Homo sapiens: one gene and its partners. The protein of the gene in region 1 purifies or fractionates together with the protein of each later gene. This does not show direct contact. Each region holds a gene or a part of one and is shown in the gene's direction. Other genes may lie near its edges. The genes, in order: CSTL1, UBE2Q1, NOCT, GINM1, PCDH7, FZD3 and STK39.

Region 1 (3,458 bases):
AATAAGTCTAATAACGAATAACACTTTGCACACTGGAATGTCAGTTACAGTGATGACGGGTGGTTTAGTTTTTTCTTACATTCTGAGCATGCTGAAAGTCAGTGTGACCGTGCCTGGGGCAGCCCTGCAAATGCCCATGCATGGATGGCCCCCACATGTTTGGGTGCGGGGAGGCTGGTACTGCCCTCAGGTCTAGGCTCCCTGCTGCCCTGTCCCAGTGTTTGCTAAGGGTGTCTTCCTCCCAGGAGCAGTGTGGGCACTCTCTGCCTCAGTCACCACCCCAGAGATGACCAAGCCCTCTCACTGGGCTTGACCAGTGACAGGGCAAGGCAACAGGGAGCTTCCCAGAGCTTCTCCTGCACCGGTGAAGATCCACTAATCCACATATCTACTCAGGAATCCAGCTCAGAACCCGACAGGGAACCGTAACCCCCAAGCTCTCTGTTAGTCTCCCTTCTGGGCGTAGGGCCTCCCTGCCCACAAGGGCTTTTCCAGGCTCCAACCCCTGCAGGCTTCATGGCCTCACACTTGATCACAAGTGAAAGAGCCATGGGGAAATCCCTGGCATGCGTTCTCCATGGCTCGTGTACCCACCATGCCTCCTTCCTTCATTTCTGTACACGCTAGGAGGAAACTGGCATTATTCTCCTCATTTCCTAGATGAGGAAACTGAGATTCAGTAAAATTTACAGAGTCTGCAGGGGGTAAAGCCAGATTTTGTGTTCTGTCACTCTCCTAACACTGAATCTGCTTCAAAGTAACACTGCAGACACTTTGCTAAAAGATGTAATAACTTATAATTATGAAAATATTTAAAATTTATTTTATGCATTCAGGGAAATGCAAGCTTCCATTTAGCCCACATAACAACTCCAGAAGCAGGCACAATTGTGGTTTGTAGTTTGTAAGTGAAAAAGCTGAGGATGCTAAGTAACTTGCTCAAGGTCACAGTCACTAAATGGAAAATGCATGCCCCAAATCAATTCGATTCCAAAACTGTTTTTAACTGTATTGCTAAGCTGCCTTCCACTAGGTTGGTCAGGAAGGATAGTAGAGACAGAGGAAATGGCAGAAGGGACTGGGGGGGTGGGGACAAGATGCTGGCTCTGTTGCATTTTGAAGGCCACATCTGCCAGCCTGGGAGTGGCCTGTGGTGGCCAGGCAACCCAGCTTGATGTTGCCTCTTCTGTCCTGAGGATGGAACAGAGGCAGGTGAGAAGCTTTCTGTGGCTGCTGCAGCAAAACCAACCTATGACCAGGGGCTTTGGCTGCCATTGCCCTCCCTCCAGCCAGAAGTAAGGAGAAGGGAGCCATGCTTTTGGTGGGTAAGCTCCGCGAACAAGAACTGTGGCCCTGGGAGCTTTACTCTCAGTCCTAGCTTCTCCAGGAGAGGGTCAGCCACTGGATGCTTGGAGTCCACACTAACAGCACAACTGATTCTCGGCAGCTGACGACGGGAGTGGAGTATATAGTCACTGTGAAGATTGGCTGGACCAAATGCAAGAGGAATGACACGAGCAATTCTTCCTGCCCCCTGCAAAGCAAGAAGCTGAGAAAGGTGTGTAGTGGAAGTCATCCCAAAGGGACTTGTGAAGTGAATATTTTAAAAAGCAACAGCTAGAAGTTGGCAGTTTTGCCACTTGTGTGGATTGGGGCCAGCTGGGGCCCAGCCCTGGGGCTGTCTGGCACCTCCTGAGGCACCTGGGTGAAGGAGGGAGGCTTTATATTTGGGCTGGTACAGCCCTGCACCCAGGCCTCTGGTTGCCTGGACCCTTCTCCAACCTGGCCTGCTCCCCAGACCCTCTGCGTGAAAGCAGTGGTTCCCTTTCCTTGGGGTCCTTCTTCTGTCTTCTTTCTCCCTCTCCAGGTCTCTAAGGTTGTCCAATTTCCTCCTTGTTCCCTTCTATTTTTCCTGGTCCATGAGTGGCACCCCTTGAAAGCTGGCAGATACAAGGGGCTCCCCCATGCCTGGGGAGGTGCAGGAGGAGGTAACGATGCTATTGCTCCTTGCTGGCCTGCCTGGCCCACATGACAGGGTCCGGCCAGGCCATAGACTCCAGGTTCACCTGCTGTGGGTCCCAAGTGGCTGGGTAGGGGGAAGACAGGGTGACATTCCTGTTCCAGACTGGCACTCCTTTCTGTTTCTACCCTTGACTGTGGGCAGCTCCCCTCTCTGCCCATGGGGTTCATGAGCAGCCACAGGGAGAGACCTGGGGAACAGGTGCCTGTTGCTTGCCTTTGAAAAATACTTCCCCCAAAGTCTGTTTTCTTTCTTCTTCTACAGAGTTTAATTTGCGAGTCTTTGATATACACCATGCCCTGGATAAACTATTTCCAGCTCTGGAACAATTCCTGTCTGGAGGCCGAGCATGTGGGCAGAAACCTCAGATGAGGGCTCATATGATTGAGTTGTGCACTGGCTGTTATTAAACTGTAAAGGATCATGTCTCCCTCATTGGGGTCTTATTACACATGCACACACACACATGCACACACAGAGTGTACACGTACACACACTTGCACATACTTACCTTCACAACCCACACACACAATGCTCATACTCACGACACCCTCACACTCTCACCACTCACATACATGCACATTCACTTTAACAGCCTCACACACTCATCCACCCGCCCACCCACTCACTCCTACATGTCAAGCACATGCACACTCACTCGCACACACATTCAGTGGTCTTCAGGGGTTGGTGCAATCTTTTCTTTCTTTTCCTTTCTTTCTTTCTTTTTTTTTTTTTTTTTTGAGACACAGTCTTGCTCTGTTGCCCAGGCTGGAGAGAAGTGGCGCAATCACTGAAGCCTCCGCTAAAGTGGAGCTCACTGAAGCCTTGACTTCCCCGGGCTCAAGTGATTCTTTCACCTTAGCCTCCCAAGTAGCTGAGATTACAGGTGCACACCGCTTTGTCCAGCTAATTTTTTAAAACACTTTTTTTGTGGAGACAATATCTCCCTTTCTTGCCTAGGCTGGTCATGGACTCCTGGGCTCAAGTAATCCTCCTGCCTCAGTCTCCCAAAGTGTTGGGATTATAGGCGTGAGCTACCGCACCCACCCAGCTGATGCAATTAGAACAGAATGTTCATAATCATTGGGGAAACCTCATCATTCTTTCTACGCCACCCCACATCTCTATGGCTTTTCTGAATTTAGCATGTCCCTGAGCTCTGACCCTAGTGTGGGGAGCCCTATTTCTTCCCAGCACACACACAACACTGTGACTCACACACATTTTTGTGAGTGTGTCTGAGATTCCCAATACCAAATTCACATTGAGTGACTCACTAGAGGACTCACAGGACTTAGCCTAGAGTCATTCTCATGGCTGTGATATGACAGCAATGGGACACAGGGCAAAACCAGCAAAGGCAAAAGGTGCATGGCGCTAGGTCAGGAGAAAACCAGCCAGGAGCTTCCAGAGTTCTCTCTCGGTGCCGTCACAC
Region 2 (4,212 bases), on another chromosome or scaffold:
TAGAATTTGTTGTGAAGCTGCTTGGTTAGATGCTGACCTAAGTTGGGCTTTTATGTGTGTGTAGGGGGTGGGGGTGGGAAGCAAAGGGGCTAGAAGTCTTGGGGGGAAGAGGACAGGCAAAATCTGGCTTTTCCCAGAGTCACCCATTTTGATTGCTCTTATTGCTCTTTTCCCTTCAGGAGTCATACCCTGCTGTGCCCCCCATCTGGTCGGTGGAGTCTGATGACCCTAACTTGGCTGCTGTCTTGGAGAGGCTGGTGGACATAAAGAAAGGGAATACTCTGGTGAGGGGGCCACAGGGTAGGGGTACATTTTGTTCTTATGAGGCCCATGCCACAAAGGCATCCTGTGAAAGGGATCCTGAAAAGTGGACGGTACACAGCTAAACATTTAGGGGATGACCTCTCGGGGGAGTTGCTTACTGAAGCCAGAGGGAGACCCTGCATCGGCCCTGGGATTGGTCCATCAGGAGACTCATTCCCACAGCCACGTGGCCCATAAGGCTTAGAGAACTAGTTATTGGTGTGGGGCCCAAACTAAGAGCTCATCCATGCACTTATCCAGATCGGAGTGGGGAAGGATTTGATGTCTCTGTGCTCCCCTACCTGTAGCTATTGCAGCATCTGAAGAGGATCATCTCCGACCTGTGTAAACTCTATAACCTCCCTCAGCATCCAGATGTGGAGATGCTGGATCAACCCTTGCCAGCAGAGCAGGTGAGCAGCTGAGGAGCCTCGGGCCCTGTTGTGCAGAGTTGCCCCACAGGGTACTCAGTAAATAATTGAGACAAATCAGTAGTTTCTCTCCATCCCCACCGGCTCCCAAAAACATACACGTCTTATGACTCTCACCCTCGTTCTTCTCCAGATGGGAATCTTCTTTTGCTAAATGGGGCACTGGTAGCTTCATCTCTGATATCAAAATTCATTCTCATGGGCAGCATCCCAGATGTTGAAAGGGAGCGGGGGAATTTTTACCATTATCTTAGCAATAACAGTTGGTGGCCACTGGGGACCCAGGCCCCTTGGTGAGAACCAAGAATGCAATATCAGTCTAAAGAAGATCAAGTAAAGGAGGGGTTCTTAGGAGAATTAAACTAGGATTTAGGAGGTGGGTGACAGAGACAGCCATTTTGCTTTTCTTTTATTCTTTGGCAGTGATAGGCGAAAAATAATGGGCTGGTAGCAAAGCCATTCCCTGGGCTGTTGCTTCCACTCAGATCTGGCTGGTGGAGAGACTGGCAGCATTACAGGCAGGCGCACAACTTCCAGACCTGGGGGCTCAGGGGAGTAGGTTGGAGGCTGCATTCTAGCAAGCCACTGGGGCTCTGATCTCCATCTTTCCCTTCCTTGCTGCAGTGCACACAGGAAGACGTGTCTTCAGAAGATGAAGATGAGGAGATGCCTGAGGTAGGCTTGCCCCCTGAGGTGGCATTGGCTGGAAGCTCTTGCAGTCAGCAACATTGGTACCCATATCCAGAACTCCAGTCTAAAACTGGAGAGAGAAAAATATCAAAGGAATAAAGACAGATTTACTGACCTGGAGGAATAGCCAGTGTAGTAGAGGAGACAGGGCACCCATATCCAACCACTGAAGACAGGTGCAGCGCGGTTCAAACCAAATACTGGGTAAGTTAATTTCAAATGGCTTTGGAGTCCAACAAACCTGTGTTTGCATCCTAGCTATCCTAATTGAGGAATTTTATGTAATCTCACTAAGCTACAGTTTTCTTATCTATAAAGTAGGATTATAATACCTACTGCATATGGTTGTCTTGAGATTAAATGAGGTGTTATATATAAAATGCTTCAGATGATACATGATAAATGCTAAACAATCTATCTGATATATTCTCTAAAAACATACAGAATATAAAATCATGGTTAGGAATTTGAGCTTTAGAGCTAGACAGAACTTGACTGAATCTTAGCTCTGCTAAGAGCTGTGACTTTGGGCATGATAATTGACCTCACTAGACTCAGCTTCCGCATCTATAAAATGGATAATGATAGAATAATGAGTGATGGTGGTAAGAATGAAATGAGCTAGTATCTGCGGCACCTAGGACAGAACCTGGCATGTAATAAACACTCAGTAGACATTACCTGCTGGTGTGGTAATTAGGTATGTCCTGCCAGAAATGGGGAGATCACTCTGATTACTTTTATTTCCTAGCATTAGATTAATATCCCAGGTTCTATAACCGTGTAAGGTTCTTGAGACTGGCAAAGGGCTGACGACATGAAATTTACTCCTCCCAGATAGTGGACAGCCCTCTGGGCCACACCCCCAACATCTGGCTGAGGGGCTCAACCCTACATAGGTTCTCCTCCTTCCCTATGCTCAGTGAGCTAGTTGCTTGCTCACTTAGAGCAGGATGAATAAGGGGCTAATTCTGTTCTTGACCTCTTCCATATATCTCTCTGGACATCCTTTCTCATTTCCATCTGGCAGTGCGTGCCTCTGCATACCTGATTCATGCCTTGCATTTGTAGCGAGGAGAGGAGATGTAATGATTCAGGTTTCTCCTTTAGGCTTGGGGCCCTGAGAACTCCCGGGTGCAATAGTCACCTGGTGAAACATGAGCTTTGAGTCACAGGGTCAGGCCCAAGTCATTTCTGCTAGGAATTAGGGAAGAGTTTCTGCTGCCAAGGGAGTTTTAGGAACAGTTGGAGCAGGGTCAGTCCAGGAAACAAGAGGGCTAAGTCCCTGCCTCGATCTCAGCTGCAGCTCTGCTCGTTTCCGAAGTCCTTGCTGTAGCTTGAGAGCTGAAGATTTAGACTGTGGAGGGAATGGGGCTGGAAATTGTTCTAAAAATGGAAAGCACGTTGCGTTTATAAGACTGCTAGATGGACTGCTTCACTTTAACTTTTGGCTCTTCGCCAAATGGGACTGGGAAGGTGATGGTCATTCTCTAACCTGTGTCGGTTTTTTTCCTTTTCTTTTCACTCCCACCCCACACCTCCTCCAGGACACAGAAGACTTAGATCACTATGAAATGAAAGAGGAAGAGCCAGCTGAGGGCAAGAAATCTGAAGATGATGGCATTGGAAAAGAAAACTTGGCCATCCTAGAGAAAATTAAAAAGAACCAGAGGCAAGATTACTTAAATGTACGTGCCTTCTAGAGAGAGGCTGGTGAAGGGGTTGGTGGGAAATGGCTGGGAAGTAGTAGGCCATCGCATCTCAGTATGGAGAGCAGACTCCTTTTTTGTGCCTAATCCTTTCTTAAATCCTGGGCAAGCTGCCAGACTGCCCCTAAGGTCTAACGTGTGTTTATAAACCACACGACCAAGGAATGTTCCTGTCATCCGTCCCTCACAGGGTGCAGTGTCTGGCTCGGTGCAGGCCACTGACCGGCTGATGAAGGAGCTCAGGGATATATACCGATCACAGAGTTTCAAAGGCGGTGAGTTTGCCCCAGAGAGGGGCCTGCACAAGAGTCACCCATAAAGAAGGGTATGGTGGCAAGGGGCCCAAGAGGTTCTGGGGTCCAGGAGTGCTTATGAACTTTTCAGGCCAAGAATGGAGCTCCTCAAGCCAGTGGCTTGGTTGCATGTCCATCTGTGGTGAACCTAGAGCTGTTGATCTTTTTCTCTCAGTCTGGGAAAGGGGTCTGCATTAGAGACCACTCACCACCTGGACCATTCTACTAACACCTGTTTTTTCCCTCCTTCCAGGAAACTATGCAGTCGAACTCGTGAATGACAGTCTGTATGATTGGAATGTCAAACTCCTCAAGTGAGTGGGGACTCTGGGATTGGAGAGGAAGTTGAGGAGGAGTGTGAGTGGGGCTACTGTGGTGGGATCTCCAGGGCAGCCCCATCCAGCATTTTCATTCAGGGTCCCGGAGCGGGTGTGGGCAGTGGTTTCGTGGTCTGCTGCCAGCCAGGGCAGGGGAGCCCTTATGAAGCTCCTGAGGTGGAACCAGGCATCTGAGCCCAGGCTTGTTGCTTCTTAGAGTTGACCAGGACAGCGCTTTGCACAACGATCTCCAGATCCTCAAAGAGAAAGAAGGAGCCGACTTCATTCTACTTAACTTTTCCTTTAAAGTAAGACTTTTCTTTTCCAGTCTCTCCCTCTGGCCTAGGCTGCCCAGTCTGCCTGACAGTCCTGTGGAGGATGCTGGCCTCCCTCCCCTGATTGTCGTCTCTCTCTCTCTCAGGATAACTTTCCCTTTGACCCACCATTTGTCAGGGTTGTGTCTCCAGTC
Region 3 (4,212 bases), on another chromosome or scaffold:
TTACAGAATGTCTCACACAATGTAGGTGCTTTATTATGGGAGTTAAAAACATGAGCTTTAGTCAGTCCCTAAGGAGTTTACTGCCCAGTAAGAGATGAGATTTGCACAATGAAATGGCTGTTTAATGAAATGAAACACCTTTTATTCTCTTGACTTGGAAATGGCACAAGGGTGCAGGAAAGCAGGAAGTCCCTTTTGGGCTTCTAGAAATGGGTGGCATTTCAGCTGGCTCTTGAAGCATGGTTAGGATTGGAAGAGATTACTATAAAGCGTTTTGTTTGGAAAAAGCAGGAGTAAATGCAGAAAGGCATGAGACACACACAGATGAGGAAGGGTGAGAGAAGAGGCACTTTGCAAAAATGGACATTGTTTTCCAAAGAGCCTCAGACCCAGCACTAAGTGCTTTTTAATTTTAATTTTTATTTTTATTTTTTTTGAGACAAGGTTCTCTCGCACTGTTGCCCAGGATGGAGTGTAGTGGCGCCACCTCTGCTCACTGCAACCTCCACCTCCCAGGCTCAAGCAGTTCTCCTGTCTCAGCCTCCTGAGCAGCTGTGACTACAGGCACACGCCACTGTGCCGGGCTAATTTTTGTATTTAGTAGAGACAGGATTTCAACGTGTTGCCCGGGCTCGTCTCAAACTCCCCAGCTCTGGTGATCCACCTGCTTTGGCCTTCCAAAGTGCTGGGATTACAGGTGTGAGCCACTGCGCCCAGCCTATGAAGTGCTTTTTTAAAATGCAGATTCTTGGATCCTACTGTAGACCTATTAAGTCTGAGTCATTCATGATGGGCCCTGGATTCCACATAACCAAATGAAATGACAAAAAGAATAACTCCAGATTGTTCTTCTATGCCCTCAAATTTGGACATCTGGCACCCATATGTGAGAGAGACATTGAAGGGGCCAAAAGCTCCTCTCCACTCCTGAGCCTTGTGGTGGGGAGTAGTGAGTCCCGACAGCTGTCCACATTTGCTAATCAGTTCCTGCATAACTTATGCCCCTTGGCAATTGGTAGTTATTGGGAAGATAAGTACAGTCCCTTTGGAGTTATCAGATTCCAGGTTGTTAGAATTAAAAGGTGACCCTAGGGATGATCTCGGTGTTTGGCTTTCTTTTCTCAAGGATAGCAGCCCCCCTAAGAAGTAGCAGTTGCCACAGTTACTGTACTGGATGAAACGCAGTTGGAAGTCATCTGTGGATTTATAAATGCTATCCTCCACATCCCTCCTCCTCAGAGAATGAAGAGCTGGCTGAACTACTGTTCTCTACCATTAGAACATTTGCTTTTTTTCATGGTACAATTTATAGGCAAATGCCACCAGCTCATTTGAGAAGGCAGCTTTATTTAATATGTCCTTTAACTATGTGAGTAAACTGCTTATGAGAGAGAAGAAACGGGAAAGCTTGTCATTATCAAGCTGCTATGGAATAAATTGCTTTCCTTGTGGGAAAACTAATGTATGATTTTTCTGTTAGCATTCAATGGCAACAGTTTAAACATGGTGAACTGGGGTTCTTTGGGGTTAATAACCATGGCTCCAGATTCACATTCCACACACTTAACATTTGTAAATCATTTAACCTTGCTTGCTGTCTCAACACTAGACTTTACCTAGAACAAATGAATAAGATCAATTGATAGCAATTTATCCACAAGCTTTATTGAATAGTACATGTAAAAGGTGACATGACTAATTGCAGTGGGAGTTGAGAAGAAAGAAATCAGTGTGGCTGAATTTGTCAAGAAATGCTTTGCTTCTAATAGGTGAAAAAGGAGGGTGTTTTGGAAGGGGACAGTTTGCGGGGTGGTGGGGGCAGGCAGAGAAGACCACACACACAATGCCTGGAAGAAGGTGGCGCTCGCATGCAGGAGCTGTGGCAAGCATCTTAGGAAAAGGGGTAGAGGCAGAATCATTTGGGACAGTTGTTAAAATGCAGATTTCTGGCCTTTCAGCCCTCTGCTTGATCAGTTTCCTGTGGAGAAGCCCGGTGGAGTGCATATTTAACAAGTGCCTCAGGGGATTCTTCCAAAAAGATTAGGGAGTATTTATGAGCTCTGCCCCTCCTTTCCCCAAAGGTACTTATTCCTGGAAAGCTTGAGAAGCTCTGGAGAGGATTCTGGAAGAGCCTTAAGACCTTTGGTCTGGCCGGGCACAGTGGTTCACGCCTGTAATCCCAGCACTTTGGGAGGCCGAGGTGCGGATCACTTGAACTGAGGCATTCAAGACCAGCCTGGGCAACATGGTGAAACCCTGTCTCTACTTACATTAGAAAAAAAATAGCCAAGTGTGGTGGTGCACACCTGTACATCCCAGCTGCTTCGGAAACTGAGGCAGGAGAATCACTTGAACCCAGGAGGCGGAGGTATCAGTGAGCCGAGATTGCGCCATTGCACTCCAGCCTGGGCGACAGTAGGAGCAATACTCTGTCTCAAAAAAAAAAAAAAAAAAAGGATCTTTGAGCTTGGGGCCTAAGGCAGTTCAAGAGACCCCTGAGAAAGAACATTGACCCCCGAAAAAAGCAGCTTTAAAAAATTGTATATTTTGTCGAGACGGGTTTTGCCGTGTTGCCCAGGCTGGTCTCGAAATCCTGGGCTCAAGCAATCCTCCCGCCTCAGCCATCCAAAAGTGCTGAGATTACAGGCATGAGCCATCACGCCCCGCCAAAAGCAGCTTTTAAGAAAGGGAAGAAATTCCAGGGCCGGGCACAGTGGCTCAAGCCTGTAATCCCAGCACTTTGGGAGGCCAAGGCAGGCGGATCACCTGAGGTCGGGAGTTCGAGACCAGCCTGACCAACATGGAGAAACCCCATTTCTACTAAAAATACAAAATGAGCTGGGCGTGGTGGCACGCACCTGTAATCCCAGCTACTCTCAAAGAAAAAAAAAAGGGAAGAAATTTGCATATTAATGAAAGTTCAGTGAGAGGAAACTTGAGACTGAGGTTGTAATGGGAGTGTATCCATGTAGTCACTCTAAGTCACAACTTAGAGTAAAATGAGGTTTCTATGATGTTTACTAAAAGAAAAGTGAGGTAATTGTGTTCTGGCTTCTTGGAGTTAGGAAGGGAGATACAGCGTCTGTATTTGCTGTCAGGAGTCACTGGTGACTAATTACAGTTTTTCTGGTTTTTTTTTTTTTTAGACAGTTTTGCTCTTGTTGCCCAGGCTGGAGTGCAGTGGCGCAATCTTGGCTCACTGCAACCTGTGCCTCCCGGGTTCAAGCAATTCTCCTGCCTCAGCCTCCCAAGTAGCTGGGACTACAGGCATGCGCCACCATGCCCGGCTAATTTTTTTGTATTTAGTAGAGACAGGGTTTCACCATGTTGGTCAGGCTCCTCTCGAACTCCTGACCTCAGGTGATACACCCGCCTTGGCCTCCCAGAGTGCTGGGATTACAGGTGTGAGCCACCACGCCCGGCCACTAATTAGAGTTTATAGGGCTTTGATAGCCACTTAAGTGGTGGTTATACTTCAGTAGATAATTAGAAATTTGAAGGACAGTGTGCCTGGGCGTTTAGCCTCATAGTAAACCTGTTTGGACTTCCACGGAAAGCAGCTAAGATACTTTTTATTTATTGTTATTCTTAGAATGGGAGAAAATCAGCCTTCCCACGGAGGGAGTGAGACCTCAAGTGAAAACCTTAGCTGTCCTCTGTATCTATGTGGCCTCAAAGCAACACTTGAATCATATATTAATACTTAGCAAGAATTCAGTGTCAGGTATGTGGGCAACAGTGCCCAGGGGAAAGAAGGCTAAACAAAATTGGTACCATCCAATTTGAATGTCCTTATAACAATTTTTTTCTCCTTCCAGTATATAAAAAAATGCGTGGGTCCCATTCAGATCTTCTGGATTTTAATATCTCCAAGTGGGGCCTGAGCATCTGCTGATTCTGACATAGGCTCCGGGTAGACAACAGCCACATATTGACAACACAGGCGGACACCTGTGAGGAGGCTCGTTTTACTAAATGCTTAGAAGCCTATTCTAAGTCTCTCAGTGATGTGATTCTCCTGTCCAAAAGTTAGAGACCACTGTTGGATTGTGGAGAGTTGTGCAGAAAGGAAAATATTTATTTTATTTATTGTAGAGACAGGGTCTCACTGTGTTGCCCAGGCTGCTCTTGAGCTCTTGGCAAGTCCATGAAAATAAGTGCTTAGAAGTTACGATGCTGCCCGGGTACCGTGGCTCATGCCTGTAATCCCAG
Region 4 (4,212 bases), on another chromosome or scaffold:
TTCACTGGGAATTGGACGTGGAATACAGCCTGTCTCCTCTCTTATGGCCATCTTTTAGTCATCCCAGTCATTGCACTGAGTTTGTTTCTATGATAACTGAAATAAATGCTCATCTTATCCAGTTACAGCAAGAATCTTCAAAACATTAAATGCAGCAACAACAACAAATCTTCTTTAATTCTTTAAAGAAACTTTTTCTTTAGTTGGTGTATTTGTTTATTGCTGCATAACAGTTTAACCCAGAAATCAGTGGCCTAAGACAATATTTATTATTTCATAGTTTCTGTAGGTCGAGAATCTGAGCTTGGCTTAGCAGGGTCCTGTGGTTCTCAAAAGGCTGCCATCACGTCAGGGCTCAGCTGGGAAAAATCTGCTTCCCAGCTCACTCATGTGGTTGTTGGCAGGAGTCAGTTCCTTCTGAGCTCTTGAACTGAGGCCTCAGTTCCTCACCAGATGTTGGTTGAAGGTCTTCCTCAGTTCCTTGTCACACGAAGCTCCCCATAGAGCATCTCACAACATGGCAACTAGCTTCATCGAGAGGACAAGAGAGACTGCCAGTAAGAAAAAGAGTACTAGCAAGACAGAAGTCATAGCCATTAATAATCTAATTGTGGCAGTAACATTCCATCACTTGGGCTATGCTCTGTTTGTTAGAAACGAGTCACTAGGCTGTGTGCATTGGCTCATGCCTGTAATCCCAGCTATTTGGGAGGCTAAGGCTGGAGGATCACTTGAGGCCAGGAGTTCAAGACCAGCCTAGGCAAGATAGCAAGGCTGTCTCTTTCAAAAGAACAAAAAAAGAAAAAAAAATCATTCATAGATCGATAGATAGATAGGTAACTAACTGACTAGTCACTAGGTCCAGCCCACTTGAGGGAGGAATTGCAGAAATGTCTGACTCCTTAGAGGCAAGGGTCATTGAGGGGCATTTTTGAAAGCCGCCTACCACAGTAAGGAAGTCAATATGAAGGGCTTTGTTGTTTTTTATTTAATTTTATGCTGTATTAGAGGTACTGTATGAGGCTCTTCTCACATTGCTATAAAGAAATACCTGAGACTGGGTAATTTATAAAGAAAAGAGGTTTAATTGGCTCATGGTTCTGCAGGCTGTACAGGAAGCATGGCACCAGCATCTGCTCAGCTTCTAAGGAGGCGTCAGGAAGCTTTTACTCATGGTGGAAGGCAAAGGGGGAGCCAGTATCTCACATGGCAGAGCAGGAGCAAGAGAGAGCAAGAGTGGCAGTGGGGTGCCGTAACCCCAAGCCATGAGGGATCTGCCCCCATGGCCCAAACATCTCCCACCAGGCCCCGCCTCCAACATTGGGAATTACATCTCAACATGAGATTTGCGGGGAACATCCAAACTATATCAGGTACCAAATTTGCAGGCTGAAGAATTGCCACTTGGGTGTATTTTTATGACTGCATTTTCTCACCCATTGAGTCTCCTGTACCTTAGTCTTTGGGCTTACGGACATGCTGACACAGCGCCTGCTGTTCCACGAAGGAGACCCACGGGTGGTAATGGTCAGTTAAAACACGGGGATGGACCATGAGAGAGGGGGTACCTTTGACAGTGGTGCTTTTCAAAGGGCATGAAGGATTAGGCACACTAGAGAGAGGAGCAGCGAGGGGCCAGATGAGGAGCCTGAGGAGGACCAGTGAGAGGACCGGGAACTTCACAGAAGTGCCACTAAAGGTGTGTGAGCAGGAGGCTGTGGACTGAAAACCACGTCACAGTGAGACGAGCTTGGCATGTTGTCTGAATGGTTTGGCGGCGGGGACTAAAGCAGGGGAGAATAGGTAGGTATATCTTGTAATAGTAAGTAGTTAATGAACTAGATATTGAGATATTCCAGACAAAGGAAGTAGCCCTATAGATGCACAGAATCAGACTAAACAGCTGGGTGTGCATTCAGATTGTATATCTGGATTCCTGTTTGGCAAAAATCTTCAGATTATTTGAGGGATAGAAATAAAATGCTCCATCTGTGACAGGTGCATTGGTGTATGTTGTTTTATCTTTTTCGATAGCACTTCTACCTTAATAGAGTAGCCGTTGGCTCTGTAAACCAGCTGCAGCTACTACACCCCGTTTCTACTGGAGCAGGAGTAGAGGTTTCCTAGCTAGAGAAGAACGTGGACAATAGCTAGTCCTACCCCATTATCGATTACCAGAGAGAAATGACAGGCCTCCCCCACCCTCTTTCCCCATTCCTGCTCTCTCTAATAGTAATGAGTCACTAATCGGGGAAAGGATTGATTAAAAAACTCAATGTTCTTACTGCTTGGGCATCTTCTCTCACAGGATTTTGTGGATGGATGAATGTATGTGCTTATTATGTTAAAACGTGGGATTGGCTGTATCTTCTGGCTGGCTTTATAGTTGTGCCATGTTGGTTCCTCATGGCCAACCTGTATAAAAGAATAGGAAAGATGGGCCAGGCGTGGTCGTTCACGCCTGTAATCCCAGCACTTTGGGCAGCCAAGGTGGGTGAATCACTTGAGGTCAGGAGTTAGCAAGACCAGCCCGGCCAATATGGTGAAACCCTATCTCTGCTAAAAATACAAAAAAACAGCTGAGCATGGTGGTGCAAGCCTGTAAACCCAGCTACTTGGGAGGCTGAGGCAGGAGAATCCCTTGAACCCAGGAGGCAAAGGTTGCAGTGAGCCAAGGTGGCACCACTGCACTCCAGCCTGGGCGACAGAGCAAGACTCCATCTCAAAAAAAAAAAAAAAAAAAAAAGAATAGGAAAGATGTTGCTAGTGTGGTATTTCATACAAAGTCTAAAGATCAACACATTTTACCCTTTCAAATGAGTGTAAGCAGTCATAAAGATTTGTCAGATTGTCTTTGTTTTTAATAAATCTGAAACAGCATTGAGGTCAGGGATGAAGAAAGCCAAAGAAATGGGTTTTCAACTGTCTTGTTCCATGTAAATGTCATCAAAATAATCACACTCACTCACAGATTTGGTGGTAATCTTTGTTCAAAGGTGTCACTACTTTTTTTTTTATAGTGAAGAATGAAAATCTTGAAAATTTGGAGGAAAAAGAATATTTTGGAATTGTCAGTGTAAGGATTTTAGTTCATGAGTGGCCTATGACATCTGGTTCCAGTTTGCAACTAATTGTCATTCAAGAAGAGGTAGTAGAGATTGATGGAAAACAAGTAAGATAGTATGTTTATTAATTGGGAATTAAATGATATTTAGATTTGTGCTAGATATTATGCATGTGTTCAGTTATTTTATTTGTTTCCGACTTGATAAGGAAGGTGCCTAATGTTGCCTATATCCAATTATTTAGAATTTTTGTATATTTATTTTAGCATTTGAAATGTATTTTTAAAATTTCCCATATTCATACATGTTTGTATCACTTTAAAATGTACAGACATTATTAAATAGAAAGTAAGCAAAGAGATTCAATTTGGCTCATAGTTCTGCTACCATTTCCTCTATGGTAAATGAAGTCTCTGTGTGTAAATGAAGTAGAATCGAGATTAAGCTTATAATAGTAAGTGTTAAAGCAGGACAGGAATATTATTAAAGTTGCAAGTTAAGTGCCCCAAAGTGGGAGTACGGGGAAATAAATAGTAATTGTTAGCTGGGCATGGTGGCTCACACCTGTAATCCCAGCACTTTGGGAGGCCAAGGTGGACGAATCACCTGAGGTCAGGAGTTCTAGACCAGCCTGACCAACATGGAGAAACTCCTTGTCTCTACTAAAAATACAAAGTTAGCTGGGCATGGTGGCGCATGCCTGTAATCCTAGCTACTCGGGAGGCTGAGGCAGGAGAATCGCTTGAACCCAGAAGGCGGAGGTTGCGGCAAGCTGAGATCGCACCATTGCACTCCAGCCTGGGCAACAACAAGAGCGAAACTCCATCTCAAAAAAAAAAAAAAAGAGTAATTGTCTGAATAGGACACATGTTTTAGTTATATAAATCTGGGAGGAAAATTTGCTTTTAAATTTTTATGGGGCTGTGCTACTATTTAAAATAAAGAATAATTATATTTTCTTTCACAGGTTCAGCAAAAGGATGTCACTGAAATTGATATTTTAGTTAAGAACCGGGGAGTACTCAGACATTCAAACTATACCCTCCCTTTGGAAGAAAGCATGCTCTACTCTATTTCTCGAGACAGTGACATTTTATTTACCCTTCCTAACCTCTCCAAAAAAGGTAACTTAAAAGACCATTATTTA
Region 5 (4,212 bases), on another chromosome or scaffold:
CCTCGGTTCTTATCCTAATGGTACTTCTGTCCTGTGTCTGGATAGCATTTGCGTTCTAAATTGTGTAATCTTATGCTTTTGAATGGACATATCAAGTGACACTTTTATGGATATTTTATGCAAACACTTCATATGTTCTGTGCTGTTACTTAAGCTTCATTTGGCTCATCAGATGAGGTTAGCTCTATATGCTTGAATATTTAAAACAGCTAATATCAAGACTGTTGGCATCCTGTTTAAAAGGCAAAGTGATATGCTTATAAATAAACTAATATATGGTGTTAGCCTTTTAACTGAGTAAAGAAGTCCACATTCCAAAAGAGAAAACCCTCAAAGCAATTGGAATGAATCACACAGTTTGCCAAAAGTGACTTTGGAAAACTTTTCTGTCATTACATATTCAAAAGAAGTATACACTTTTAACCCCAAGTAAATAGCTGACCTAAAATGAAATAAAGGCAGATGAAACACATTCCCCTTAATGTAATTAGTAATAGTAATTGATATGTTTCATCTCCTCAATATTGCTGTCAGGGGACAAGGGATCCATTTACAAAGTTACATTCCGTTTTGACATCTGACATAAATGGGATCCTTTTTGTTCTGCTTTTTGTTTGTGCCATAAGTAGACAATTTCCTATTTTTATTTTTAAAATATATGACCTTTAATTTTTACAGAACTGCCAAAATATATTTTCTTTGATTAAACCTGATGTTATAAAAGAAAAAAAGAGAATTCAGGGTTTCGCGGGAATTTCCTTCTTTTGATAAATGGATTTATCTAAGGTAAAACTAGACTGTTGTATTCTTTCAATTCCATACAGCAGGGTCTAATTTAAAAATTGAGATTTCATTTTACATTCATTTTATTTATAGTTTTCCTGAATTGCCTTATTGCAGTTATTTATTTGTGAAAAAATTAAAGTGATGTTTCTTAAGAGTGTTCTTATCTTCATGAAAATTAGACATTTTAAAGTGTTGAACCTAAGTCCTGTTGTTTTCATTATAATAGGTTAAACAGCTTTGTAGAAATGAAAGTTTGTAAATAATACTCTCCCTTAACTGCTTACTTTTTGTTTTGTTTACATAGACTTGAGAGCCATTCAAATCAAGCTTCTATGGCAGACTCTAGGAAATGTGTGTGGTAGAGTTGCTGGAATTATTTCCGAAATTCACACTTTAGAAAAACTCACTGATGATGTAGCCCAAATTTTCATAGTTCATACCTTTGCATTTCAAACAAAAGCCTTTGCTCTCAGCTAAATAATGTGTTTAGCTGAGCAAAATGTGGATCATTGACAGCATGATTGAGATTAAGTATCCACCTTTCTGTTTCATTCTTCCTTGGTAAACCTGGTCTTGGTAGTTGTTAAACTTTTGTGAACTAGAAGTACAACTGTGTTTTTCATTCATAACATAAAGGCATACGCATTCTATTTTTCTGTTTATTTTTAAGTCTCTGGTATTTTACTATGTGCTAAGCATTTTTCAATTTTCTTTTAAAATAATGTAATCCCCCCAAAGAGTGATAGTATGAAAAGTACAGTTACTATTTTGCTTATTATTCTTGAATTCTATTGAGCTTATCCTTGATAGGCTGTTATTTAGATAATGCACTTACAAGTAAAAATTTTATTGTATTTAGTAAATGGAAAGTAAGGTAATTTATTTTTGGCAAGAGCTTAGTTTGAATAAACATCCATTTTAAAATCCACTTGCAGCTGATCCTGAAATACAAAAAATTTACATTAACTTCAGTGACAGTTTCAGTTTGTCTTCATAATGTTCTCTTTAGTGATCGAATTATGTTCAATATATTCATTGTATACCTAGTGAAAAAATTTGGGAGAATTTTTTAATTGCTTCAATTTTGGAAGCAAATGGTTGACTTGCTGTCATCTATTAAGCAATAAGAAAACTAAATGTCAATTCATTTGTGTGTGTGTGTGTGTGTATACATACATATGTATATATATATATATATATAGAGAGAGAGAGAGAGAGAGAGAGAGCATATATATATATTCTTTAGTGGAAATGCATCTACATAGTGATGCCAACCATAGCTTCCAGTGCTCATTCTGTAAGCATAATTTTTACAATGTTTTTCTCCTGTCTATAACCAAGGATGTTTTCATAAGGCACAATGAATCTGCATATGTTGTAATTTCCGTTACATTTGGCCTGATACCATAGGCAAAACACTAATAGCTGATGGAAGTTAGGCTGTGTCTTTAGTCATCTAGTAAAGCAACACTATCTGGATCTCTGGATGTCTATGAAATAAGGAAAAGGTCATCCATTGATTTGATCCGCAATGAATTTGCAAATTTATATGGAAGTCCACATGATTATTTGAATCTTATCCAAAACTTATCCTAAACCAATTAATGACTTAGATGTAAGACCACAAAGTCAGTTTAAATATTTTAATGAGCCATCTAGTACAATAAATATGGCAAAATCATTTTTTCTTATCCTTCTATCTTTGAGTAATTACATATCTCGTATGTGAAAAAGTGTGAACATGGTTTATATCACAAACTCTGTACACACAGAGACATATACACACATATTAGTGTATACCATTTATAGCTGTATTAGTCTTTTATTTAGTCATGATGTTTATAGATTAATATGTGAAAAATATCTAAGCTTAAACATACACAATGTTGAAATAAAATATACTATAATCAACAGCTTAATGACTGTACATGAAATCACTAGCATCATCACATTTTAGAATTACAAGGTGTCAAACAGTCCCCTCATTTTAATAGAAGAGGAGACTGAGGCCCAGCATGAAACAGTGACTTGATTGGGATTACAAAATTGTCAGGGATATAATGTGGACTAGAGTCCAAGTTATGGAATGTAGTGTCCAGTATTCTTATTTATCTGATCATACTACCTTTGGGGGAAAAAAACTGAATTTCTGTAACTTTCTGTGTGTGTATTTCAATTGCAGTAGAAATCTGTTGAAATTTACTTACTTATTTATGACTATATATTTGGCTATGAAGATTGACATCTTTACAATAGACTATAATTCTGCTTTAGGCTCCAGTTCTTCTGTGTAAAATTATCTGGGAAAATATAATTCAAAATTTACAGAATTTTAAAGAAGTTAATAATTCTTTTCCCTCATGTAGGATTGTAATTGATAACATAGAGTAAAGCATCTTAACATGGTTAAGAACATATATTCTGTTGACAGAATTTTTAATATTAGCAGAACAATGATAACAGACATAAGTTCCTTCCTAGCAATTAGTATATTTCAATAAAAATTCATTTAAATAGAAAAGAATTAAAACATTCTACACATTATGTATGAAACTTTTTATGCATTCTAATTGTGATAATCTTTTACCTTTTTCATCAATATTGATAATTACTTTTGACTTCTGGGCTTGTGTGCATTTTATCAACTTTGCACATACATTTTATTTTAGTAGCATCCTTAACACACAGTCATGCACGAATGTTTTCTCTTAATTTGTTTTCTAGCAAGTTTTTAGAAGAATATGACATTTTGTTAACTTTCAATTGGATTGCTTCCTTGTTAGGCAGTTAACCAATCTAGTGTACTAGATTCTAAATTTGCACAGTGATAAAATATAAATTATTGAATCTATTAATTTTAAAAATAAAATCTGAACTATTTTAAAAACTAAATATAGTGTGACAAAGCCATTACTTCAACACAGCAATCTACTCTATTAAACATTTTAACATCTTTTCTTTCCTGGGAGGATGTGGTGGTGGAGATTATGTAGGAGATTTAGTATAATTATATACAGTATTTTAAATATATATATAACTTTAAATATATAACATGACTTTGTTTAGAATAGTCATGTATAAAGAGTGTATAATCGATTTCTAGACTATGGCAAGGTTTCCCATTCATTTATTTACTATGACTCTATAGAAATAGTAAGAGCTGTTCCCATATATCTAGAGTAAGCTTTGCTTTTCTTAGTTTTTTTAAAAAAACCCATAGAATCTTTTCTAAAGCAGTGACTCTTTTGCGGTACATTACACTGTGCTTTATTTAGCATTAGTGTTGTGGGAAAAATCACATTCTAAGAAGAATTGAGCTGAAACCACTAAAACTAATCTTAATTATCACTTCTGGTGAATTAATGTTTTAAAGGCGGAATCAAGGTTTATTTTCAGGAATGTAGTGATGTTTGTATTGAACTCTAA
Region 6 (4,212 bases), on another chromosome or scaffold:
GACCGTCCTGGCTAACATGGTGAGACCCTGTCTCTACTAAAAACAAAAAAATTAGTTGGGCATGGTGGCGGGCACCTGTAGTCCCAGCCACTCGGGAGGCTGAGGCAGGAGAATGGCGTGAACCCGGGAGGCGGAGCTTGCAGTGAGCTGAGATCGCACCGCTGCACTCCAGCCTGGGCAACGGAGCGAGACTCTATCTCAAAAAAAAAAAAAGAAAAAAAAAAAAGTAGAGATTGCATTAGTTCCATATCTCCGCAGAGTTCTCTGGTAGATTAAATGTTCTCTGTGCACTAGGCCAAGGAAGTTCCTGTTACCTTTGAAAATCATTGTGTTTGCTCTGATTGTCTACATTAGCTCATATCAGTCTTTTGAACACTGGTTCAAATCTGGGTGTTGGGTTAGGATCTGATGAGTAGAGAATAGTGGAAAGTTGATATAGGAAGGTATACTGGTTTCTGGTGTGATTCTTTAGCTACATTTATTCCTTGTCTTATGTCATTTCACTGGATCATGTAACTGTCCTGGCTTTCAGAAATTATATTAGATGCCCAGCCTTTCTCATTCAGAGATGCCTGTATTATTATGTTATTTCGATTGCCTACCAAAAAAAAAAAAAAAAGAAAAGGTTTGTTTTTAGTTCTCTGCCTCTGCAAGTCTTTGTGATCACATTTGTTAAATTGAATCTGAGATTCAAATATTTCATTTAATATTTTCTGGGTTTTGATAATGGGATATTCTGTAAGATAAAGCAAGTAATCCTAGAGTGATTTACTTTATGTTTAGCCATCCACCATTTTCCTATTTCTCTACTCCTCCCATTCTCCATTTTTAAAAGGAAATTAACAAATGTCTTCCTTTATCCCTGCCTCAGATAATTTTTCCCTGAACTCATCTTGTCAGCAGAAACATTTAATGTGAAATAATTCTGTATTTCTGAGACAAGATCAACACAGTAGTTCTTTACATTGAGCTGAGGTGAATGTATACTTAAAAATACTCTATTTTCTTTTTATATGAACTTAAAATTTTTAAAATCATATATGGGACTCCCCAATGTGAAAATATTAGTCTGGACATTCTCTTGCCATCAGGTGCTATTTCTACCTTAGCTGTGAGTTAGACTAAATCCAAATTTCGTATCATTCATCTTTTTATAATATTTAACTTCCCTAGAATCACCCCATTTCATGTCTTTAACCCCAACTTCCAACAACTTTTCTGCTTTTATTTTCAAATGTCAAATTGTATTTTTGTGTTTTATTTTCTCATTGAAGTGTAAAAGTATCACATATATGAAGGAATGGCTGGTTTAGACATTTACTTTGGCATAGTAAAGATTGATATTGATACCACCCACCATCCTTTCCTCTAGCCCCAGAAAGAAAAGTTTGACAACTCAAAAACGATTAAATTATCTTATCTTGTTATTTAATAGAACAATGGAAGCTGTTTCGTCAAAATTAAAATACTTTACCAAAAAAATACTTTTTTGTATTTTAATCTGATAGTGAATTTGGGGATTATTTATGTAAATGTATCATAATTAATAGTAATTATGAGTTATTTCACTCTCTGTAATTTGTGATACCCAAGATTCATATTTATTTAATGTGAGGTGTTTTTTGAGGCTTTTTTGTTTTATCTTGTTTTCTTAACTTTTTACAGTGTTGTTAGATTATCGCGGTCATCTCGGCATGTGGATCGCTCCTCCTGTAGATCAGCTGTTCTCTCTTAGAGTCAGGACAAGGAGGTTTTTGCTACATGGTCGTAGTTGGATAATACAGCATTATTCTGAACTATCTGAAATTGCTGGTTTTATTGGTCAAAAATGATCAGATGCTAGCAATTTCATAATAGATATATTCAAGAAGGAACCAAACTTTAAAAGATCTTTTAGAATAGGTATGTTAACTTCTCATCCTAACCCTATCAATATATCAGAGGCTTTATGAAGGAGACTCTACAGATAACCACAAATCTTATCAAGAAAATTCTCCTTAAAAAAAGTTATCCTTTATTTTGTTGTTAAATTTCCCAGTTTTTAAAAGTGTTTTATCAAAATGACTTCATAATTGAAGCAAATACCTTTTGGAAGTATATATGTTACATAAGACTTTCACTAAATCTGTGCGTAAAGCTTTTATAATCTGAGATATTGTTATGTATTAGGTTTGTGCAAACCTAATATAAAAGGGTTCATCTGTAAGTATCATTTAGAGGCAAAATAATTTCCCCCTCACATCTAATGTGGACTCAAATTTTGGCAACTGGAATGTTATCCTCTTGGTAGGCATTCTAAATTAATGAATACTGCTATGTGGTGTAGTAAACAAATTTGCCATAAAATGCCATTTAAGGATTTTCTTTTTACCTTTATTTCATTATAAAAGTATATGAGTTGAAGATCATATAAAAAATATGAAACTCCTACACAGGAAATCCCCAATTTTGTGATTTAATAGGTTGTAAAAAGAGTTGTTCCAAATTCAGACTACATCTCATCATATAAATAATATTATGAATAATAAGGGTAAAAGATTAGCCAACAAAAGCTAATCTAGTACACCCCATAGAGGTACTCCAGGTGTCTTGGTTTTGGATAAATTTTTATAGTGGAGAAAGGTTACTTTGATCTCTCAATAATTGCTTGGTACACTTCTTCCTAGGCAATATGCTCATGATACCCTCTTCATGTGACCTATTCCTCAAATGCTGCATTCTCCAAAACTTCCTTACCTGCCTTCTATCCCCTAGTCATTCTTATCAATACTTCCAAAATATAACCTATCTCAAGTGTTAGAAATTTGCTTTAACTAATTTATATTAAAGTGTTAGTGACTATAGCCCTTTTATCTCTCTTAAAGAGAAATCTGCATTAAAAGCAAACACATTGCTGTTAGCTCAAATTAATGTCAGTGAGTAGAATCTTAAGCTTTAAAACAAAAGTGGAAATAATTTAAATTAGTGTTGATGGGACTATTTTGAGGCAAGAGATACCATTAAGTGACCTAGCTTGGAAATCTGCCCCCTTTGCCCAAACCCATGTGATGTCTGAAACTACTGTATATTTTCAATGACCTTGAGAAAGGGAGCTAGTCATTTGTATTTATGGGCCTTATGAAGTCAGGGCCTGCTGATCCTGTTTTTTAAGTTCAAGCGCAATGCCTGAAGCATCCTAGATCTCCTTCACCCTCATTCTACCTGACAGACAGCTAGGTCTGTCTTCCAGCTCTTTCTCATTGATACTACCTTTACATATGAATACTATCCATGCTTGTTAAAAAAAAAAAAAGTCTTTCCCCATTTTACTGTTACAATTTTTCAAGAGCTATAAAGGTAGAAAAAGTATTCCTTTTCATTATTCTAAAAAATATGTCATTTTTAAATAGCTGGCACTTAGCAGTTTAGTTTTCCAAACTTTATTCTGAATCAAATTGCTGAGGTGATTCTAAATGTCTAATGTTGATTTATCATATAAACATCTAATTAGAAAGTGTTTATGCTAAAGACTTGTATTTTGTGGCATTAGTTCTTCATGTTTCTTTTTTATATGTTTATTAAAATTGTTCACTTCCAAATGAGTGGAAAAGTTGCTGTTGTTGGGATGTACAGGGCAAGTGCACTTGGTTAGAGCATGAACTGGGAATTTCACATTCTCTGATGTGCTTTGCACTCTGCTCTTGTAGATTTATTTTGTTTACAGTAGACTGATGTCAGTTTTTGTAAATGTTTTTTCTTAGCACTTTAACTGTGAGTGTACAAACTGATTTTAAATGTAGTGGTTGTATATTTTGGTTATAAATTGGAGATTTTTAATAAAATTAAATAATTCTCTTTTCTGTCATTAGTACCTGATTAATTATAATTTTCTTTGTCATCTTCCAGACCCTTTAAACAGTCTATTTAACACTACTGCACTGCATTTTTAAATGTTTTCATATTGTAAGTTTTTCATATAATAATGTAGGAATCATAGGAGTCTGCCACATAGAAATAAACACACACCATCCTATATTATATCCCTTTTTTCTCATACTTGTTTTGTCAATGCAGATAAAACCCATCTCTGTTCATTGTTATATCTTCAGCACATTACGCTATTAGACACATATTAGAGGCTCAATAAATATCTGTTAAATACATTAAAGTATTGTATTTATATCAATTTCCCAATAAGAAATCCTACCCATATAAGCAAATAAACTATCAGGT
Region 7 (4,212 bases), on another chromosome or scaffold:
CAAATAAAAAAAGAAAAAGAAGGAAAGAAAATAAAGATCAGGTAGTGTCACAGGAAGGAATCTTCCGGTTATAAGCAGAGGTCTAGAAACAACATACTTCTTTCCCCCTCCCACCTGTGATTTAGGTCCTCAAAGAGTGTGTTTTTTTTCTCTCAGCAGTTCACTTCTGCCTTTTCTCCTGGCCTCATACTCCTTTCTTTGTCAGTTCAGACTTTTTGCACCCTCTTTGGAGGGTTGCTCTTAGGAATTTTTGTGAGAAATACTGTAACCAGAAAAGGAACCAGCCATGGAACGGCCATGAACAGCCTTCTGGTCCCTGACCCAGAATCCTTCTCGTTAAATTCACACTGAAAGTGCTCTTGCAAACTTGGATTTAGTGTTTTTGGTCATGGGGCCCCCATTCAATTGTTTGTTTGCCTTGGGAATATTTGCATTAAATAAAGCCCATATTTTGATGTTTCTATTAAATTTTATACATAATGGAGTCTTGTTCTGAAAAGGTGATGAAGGTGCTTATGTTTTAATTCTTCTGTTTGTCTACTTAGGTTCAATGTTGGATATCATAAAATACATTGTCAACCGAGGAGAACACAAGAATGGAGTTCTGGAAGAGGCAATAATAGCAACAATTCTTAAAGAGGTTTTGGAAGGCTTAGACTATCTACACAGAAACGGTCAGATTCACAGGTATGACCTCTGCAGAGATGTTTAAATTCAGATGTTCATATCTTAAAGAGGTTTTGGAAGGCTTAGACTGTCTACACAGAAACGGTCAGATTCACAGGTGTGACCTCTGCAGAGATGTTTAAATTCAGATGTTCATATCTTCAGCCCTAGTTTGTAAAGAATGTTAAGGAAACACATGTTGCAGGCAGGTATTGACATTACTTTAACTTAGTCTAAATAGATGGGAAAAAAGTACTTAAGAAAGAAACAAGAGAATAAATTTTGATGAATTATATTGGTATCCTTGGGATTGCTTCAGTTGCTTTCACTGAAATAAGAGTGGAATCTAAAAAGGACTACATGGACTCATTTAAAAAGATCAGTTTTGGTAACTACTCTTGAATTATACTAGTTGAACTAGACAGCATCTCTATCTTTCTAATACAAGCAAGACTATCCAAACATTGTACTATGTGAATTATTTTTGATGTGGTGGTGAGAGGGAAGGAAGAGGTACTCATCTTCTTTTGTGACATAAAATGTTAATTCTTTACATAGTCAAATCACATAGAATATGAGTGCTTGATGTTTCAAGTGAGTGAGTGCTACTTGGGCTCTTAGGAATTATTGCAAGTAAATAGCCATTTACCAGTAATACTAATAATGTAATTCTCCTACCCTGAAATTTATATTTAATTATTTCTACTATATTTTTCTTTTTCTTTTTTTTTTTGAGACAGAGTCTTGCTCTGTTGCCCAGGCTGGAGTGCAATGGTGTGATCTCAGCTCACTGCAACCTCTGCCTCCCGAGTTCAAGCAATTCTCCTGTCTCAGCCTCCCGAGTAGCTGGGATTACAGGCATGCGGCACCATGCCTGGCTAATTTTTGTATTTTTAGTAGAGATGGGGTTCACCATGTTGGCCAGGCTGGACTGACACTCTTGATCCCAGATGATCTGCCCACCTTAGCCTCCCAAAGTGCTAGGATTACAGGCGTGAGCCACTGTGGCTGGCCTATATTTTTCAATAATTAGAAAAAAGTTACTTTAGAAATCAAATTTATAAATTGCAAGTTGTCATTTTTCAAAGTACTAAGATTACACAGGTTTTATACGGTGAAGAAATATAATATCTATTATTATAATTAGTATTTATAATCAGTCTCTCACCAGAGAGAAGTTCATTTTTCAGAAAGATAATTAAGTTGGAATTGCATCCCAAATTTAAGTGGAAGTAGAGGAGCTTTACATAGACTGGGCTTTAATACTTGGTAGAATGACAGTAGTGTGAGTTTATGGGCAGTGTCTAACTCTGAAGCATAAAATAGAGAGTCTATTTACTGATGATTTAATTAAATTTGGATAATTATTTCATAGAAAATATTTCTTTCTAAAATCCTAACTCTCCCCCACGAGTAAACTATAAAGTGACAGGTGGATCCTTATACCTTTTTTTTTTTTTTTTTTTTTTTTTTGAGACCAAGTTTCACTCTTGTTGCCCAGGCTGGAGTGCAGTGGCACGGTGTTGGCTCACTGCAGCCTCCACCTCCCAGGTTCAAGTGATTCTTCTGCCTCAGCCTCCCAAGTAGCTGGGATTACAGGCACCTGCCACCATGCCCAACTAATTTTTATATTTTTAGTAGAGATGGGGTTTCACCATTTTTTCCAGGCTGGTCTCGAACTCCTGACCTCAGGTGCTCCACCCACCTTGGCCTCCCAAAGTGCTGGGATTACAGGCGTGAGCCACTGTGCCCAGCCTATCCTTATAACTTTTAAAATCTGTGCTATTATCTTAATATTTATGAAATTATTATGTCAAAGAGCTGCGTTGTATGATATGTTTTAAAATCTTCCTGAGTGAATCAATACACTATAAAGTCTGTACCCTACAATTTATTTTCTATTTTTTTTTCTAATAGGGATTTGAAAGCTGGTAATATTCTTCTGGGTGAGGATGGTTCAGTACAAATAGCAGGTAAAGCTGATAAATAGAAAAATTTTTTACTTGATTACGGAAGTGTTACAGTTTCAAGGAATGTAGAATCATTCCTGAGAAATGAATAAATGCATGTAATCTCTTTTCAGAATGATATTTACAGAATGTTTGGGTCCGAAGGATAACATATTTTCCTTATTGTTTTGATAAGTCATTAGATCATCCTGTGAAAAATGCCATTTTAGTACATAGCTTTTTGATAAAGAATAATTTTATTTTCAATTTTATTATGTTTTCTACCTTTCACATTTTATAATGGTAATACTCATATAACTTCAAGAAATGCACTTGTAAAAACATTTTTCGATAGGTTTGAAAATTTAAAACATCATACACATCAATTAAAAACTAATTTATTTCTTAAGAGGTATCTGAAAGAATTGTGAACATTAAAAATCTGGGCCTTATTTTGTTTTTAACTCTGACCCAACATGGCTATTCTTGACAAAGCTGGTAGGCTGGGGATGCAATGAATGTCTTTTACATGAACACACAATATCAGGTGAGCACCTTTCGTGTTCAAAGCCTCTATTTTGTTATTGGCCCTAGAGTAACCTTAAAGGCCTGGGATAAGATGTAGCCACGCCCATATTAACTCTTGCTTTACCCATGTCGTTGAAAGTCTGTCTCAGCAATCCTTTTAGCTTTCATGGTTTCTTGGGGGAGTGTTCTTGGCATTTTTTGGCTAGACAGTCATTCCCTCTACTGGAGTGACCCTGTCATTGCAGAGACGCGTAAGATGAGCCCACTTGTACCCATCACCTAGTTTCAATAATTATCAATCTTTGGCAATTCTTGATTCATCTGCTGCCCCCCACCCCCACCCCCCGACTCTGGTGCCTCTCCTCATCGTGGAGGCTGGATTTTGTTGTTGAGCCATCTGAGTTAGTGCTTTGTGTGTGCATATCTTGTCCTCATGAGTGGACCTTATCCCATAGGCTAAGGACAGTTTGAAAAAGTACTTCAGTTAAACAAGTAACAGCTAAGAGACATCTGTGGGCAAAGATTTCAAACTGTCCAGCCCCAAGCAGTCTAGTTGTTCAGAGTGCAGGCTCTGGTGTCAGCTGACTTGATCGAAATTCTGAGGCCACCACTTAGTAGCTGTACCACCTTGGGCAAGTTACCAAACCTTCTTAAGACTCAGTTTCCTTAAAGAAGGGTAAAAATATAAACTACTTCATCTTCTTTCATGAAATCAAGGTCCAGTGATCTTAACAGTGGCCAACACATAATAGGCAAGCAGTAAATATCAATAACTGCTGTTCTACCATGGCTGCTGCTGCTACTGCTGTTGCTACTATTACTACTATTACTTCTGTTACTACGACTAACAGGATCACAGTGATACTCCCTTGCACTGACTGGAGATCATGTGACCCTCAAATTGTCCTGCAAGAGCTTCAGCTCTGAGGAGAGTTTATGACTTATCAAAAGGTAATACTTATTAATTATGGAATTTGGAAGCTAACTTGCCATTAATCTTGCTCTAAGATGATAAGGAAGTACAACTAATTTTCTGTTTTATGATGAAATGATGATTTCTCACTAAAAG

Evidence for each region.
Region 2: the proteins of CSTL1 (region 1) and UBE2Q1 purify together in Homo sapiens (affinity purification with mass spectrometry; one large-scale study listed by BioGRID and IntAct). This does not show direct contact.
Region 3: the proteins of CSTL1 (region 1) and NOCT purify together in Homo sapiens (affinity purification with mass spectrometry; one large-scale study listed by BioGRID and IntAct). This does not show direct contact.
Region 4: the proteins of CSTL1 (region 1) and GINM1 purify together in Homo sapiens (affinity purification with mass spectrometry; one large-scale study listed by BioGRID and IntAct). This does not show direct contact.
Region 5: the proteins of CSTL1 (region 1) and PCDH7 purify together in Homo sapiens (affinity purification with mass spectrometry; one large-scale study listed by BioGRID and IntAct). This does not show direct contact.
Region 6: the proteins of CSTL1 (region 1) and FZD3 purify together in Homo sapiens (affinity purification with mass spectrometry; one large-scale study listed by BioGRID and IntAct). This does not show direct contact.
Region 7: the proteins of CSTL1 (region 1) and STK39 purify together in Homo sapiens (affinity purification with mass spectrometry; one large-scale study listed by BioGRID and IntAct). This does not show direct contact.

Annotation. Positions count from the first base shown.
Region 1 is NC_000020.11:23,442,487-23,445,944, forward strand, and holds the end of CSTL1 (cystatin-like 1 precursor), read left to right. Parts: intron 1-1,447; coding exon 1,448-1,558; intron 1,559-2,284; coding exon 2,285-2,392; 3' UTR 2,393-2,444; downstream 2,445-3,458.
Region 2 is NC_000001.11:154,551,932-154,556,143, reverse strand, and holds part of UBE2Q1 (ubiquitin-conjugating enzyme E2 Q1), read left to right. Parts: intron 1-179; coding exon 180-284; intron 285-611; coding exon 612-716; intron 717-1,115; exon of another isoform or gene 1,116-1,358; coding exon 1,359-1,409; exon of another isoform or gene 1,410-1,494; intron 1,495-2,471; exon of another isoform or gene 2,472-2,535; intron 2,536-2,971; coding exon 2,972-3,112; intron 3,113-3,323; coding exon 3,324-3,408; intron 3,409-3,679; coding exon 3,680-3,740; intron 3,741-3,960; coding exon 3,961-4,051; intron 4,052-4,164; coding exon 4,165-4,212. UniProt on the Homo sapiens protein: Catalyzes the covalent attachment of ubiquitin to other proteins. May be involved in hormonal homeostasis in females. Involved in regulation of B4GALT1 cell surface expression, B4GALT1-mediated cell adhesion to laminin and embryoid body formation.
Region 3 is NC_000004.12:139,018,635-139,022,846, forward strand, and holds part of NOCT (nocturnin), read left to right. Parts: intron 1-4,212. UniProt on the Homo sapiens protein: Phosphatase which catalyzes the conversion of NADP(+) to NAD(+) and of NADPH to NADH. Shows a small preference for NADPH over NADP(+). Represses translation and promotes degradation of target mRNA molecules.
Region 4 is NC_000006.12:149,575,802-149,580,013, forward strand, and holds part of GINM1 (glycoprotein integral membrane protein 1 precursor), read left to right. Parts: intron 1-3,020; coding exon 3,021-3,172; intron 3,173-4,032; coding exon 4,033-4,189; intron 4,190-4,212.
Region 5 is NC_000004.12:30,726,311-30,730,522, forward strand, and holds part of PCDH7 (protocadherin-7 isoform d precursor), read left to right. Parts: intron 1-4,212.
Region 6 is NC_000008.11:28,570,425-28,574,636, forward strand, and holds the end of FZD3 (frizzled-3 isoform 1 precursor), read left to right. Parts: 3' UTR 1-3,834; downstream 3,835-4,212. UniProt on the Homo sapiens protein: Receptor for Wnt proteins.
Region 7 is NC_000002.12:168,160,214-168,164,425, reverse strand, and holds part of STK39 (STE20/SPS1-related proline-alanine-rich protein kinase), read left to right. Parts: intron 1-545; coding exon 546-687; intron 688-693; exon of another isoform or gene 694-704; coding exon of another isoform or gene 705-784; intron 785-2,583; coding exon 2,584-2,639; intron 2,640-4,212. UniProt on the Homo sapiens protein: Effector serine/threonine-protein kinase component of the WNK-SPAK/OSR1 kinase cascade, which is involved in various processes, such as ion transport, response to hypertonic stress and blood pressure.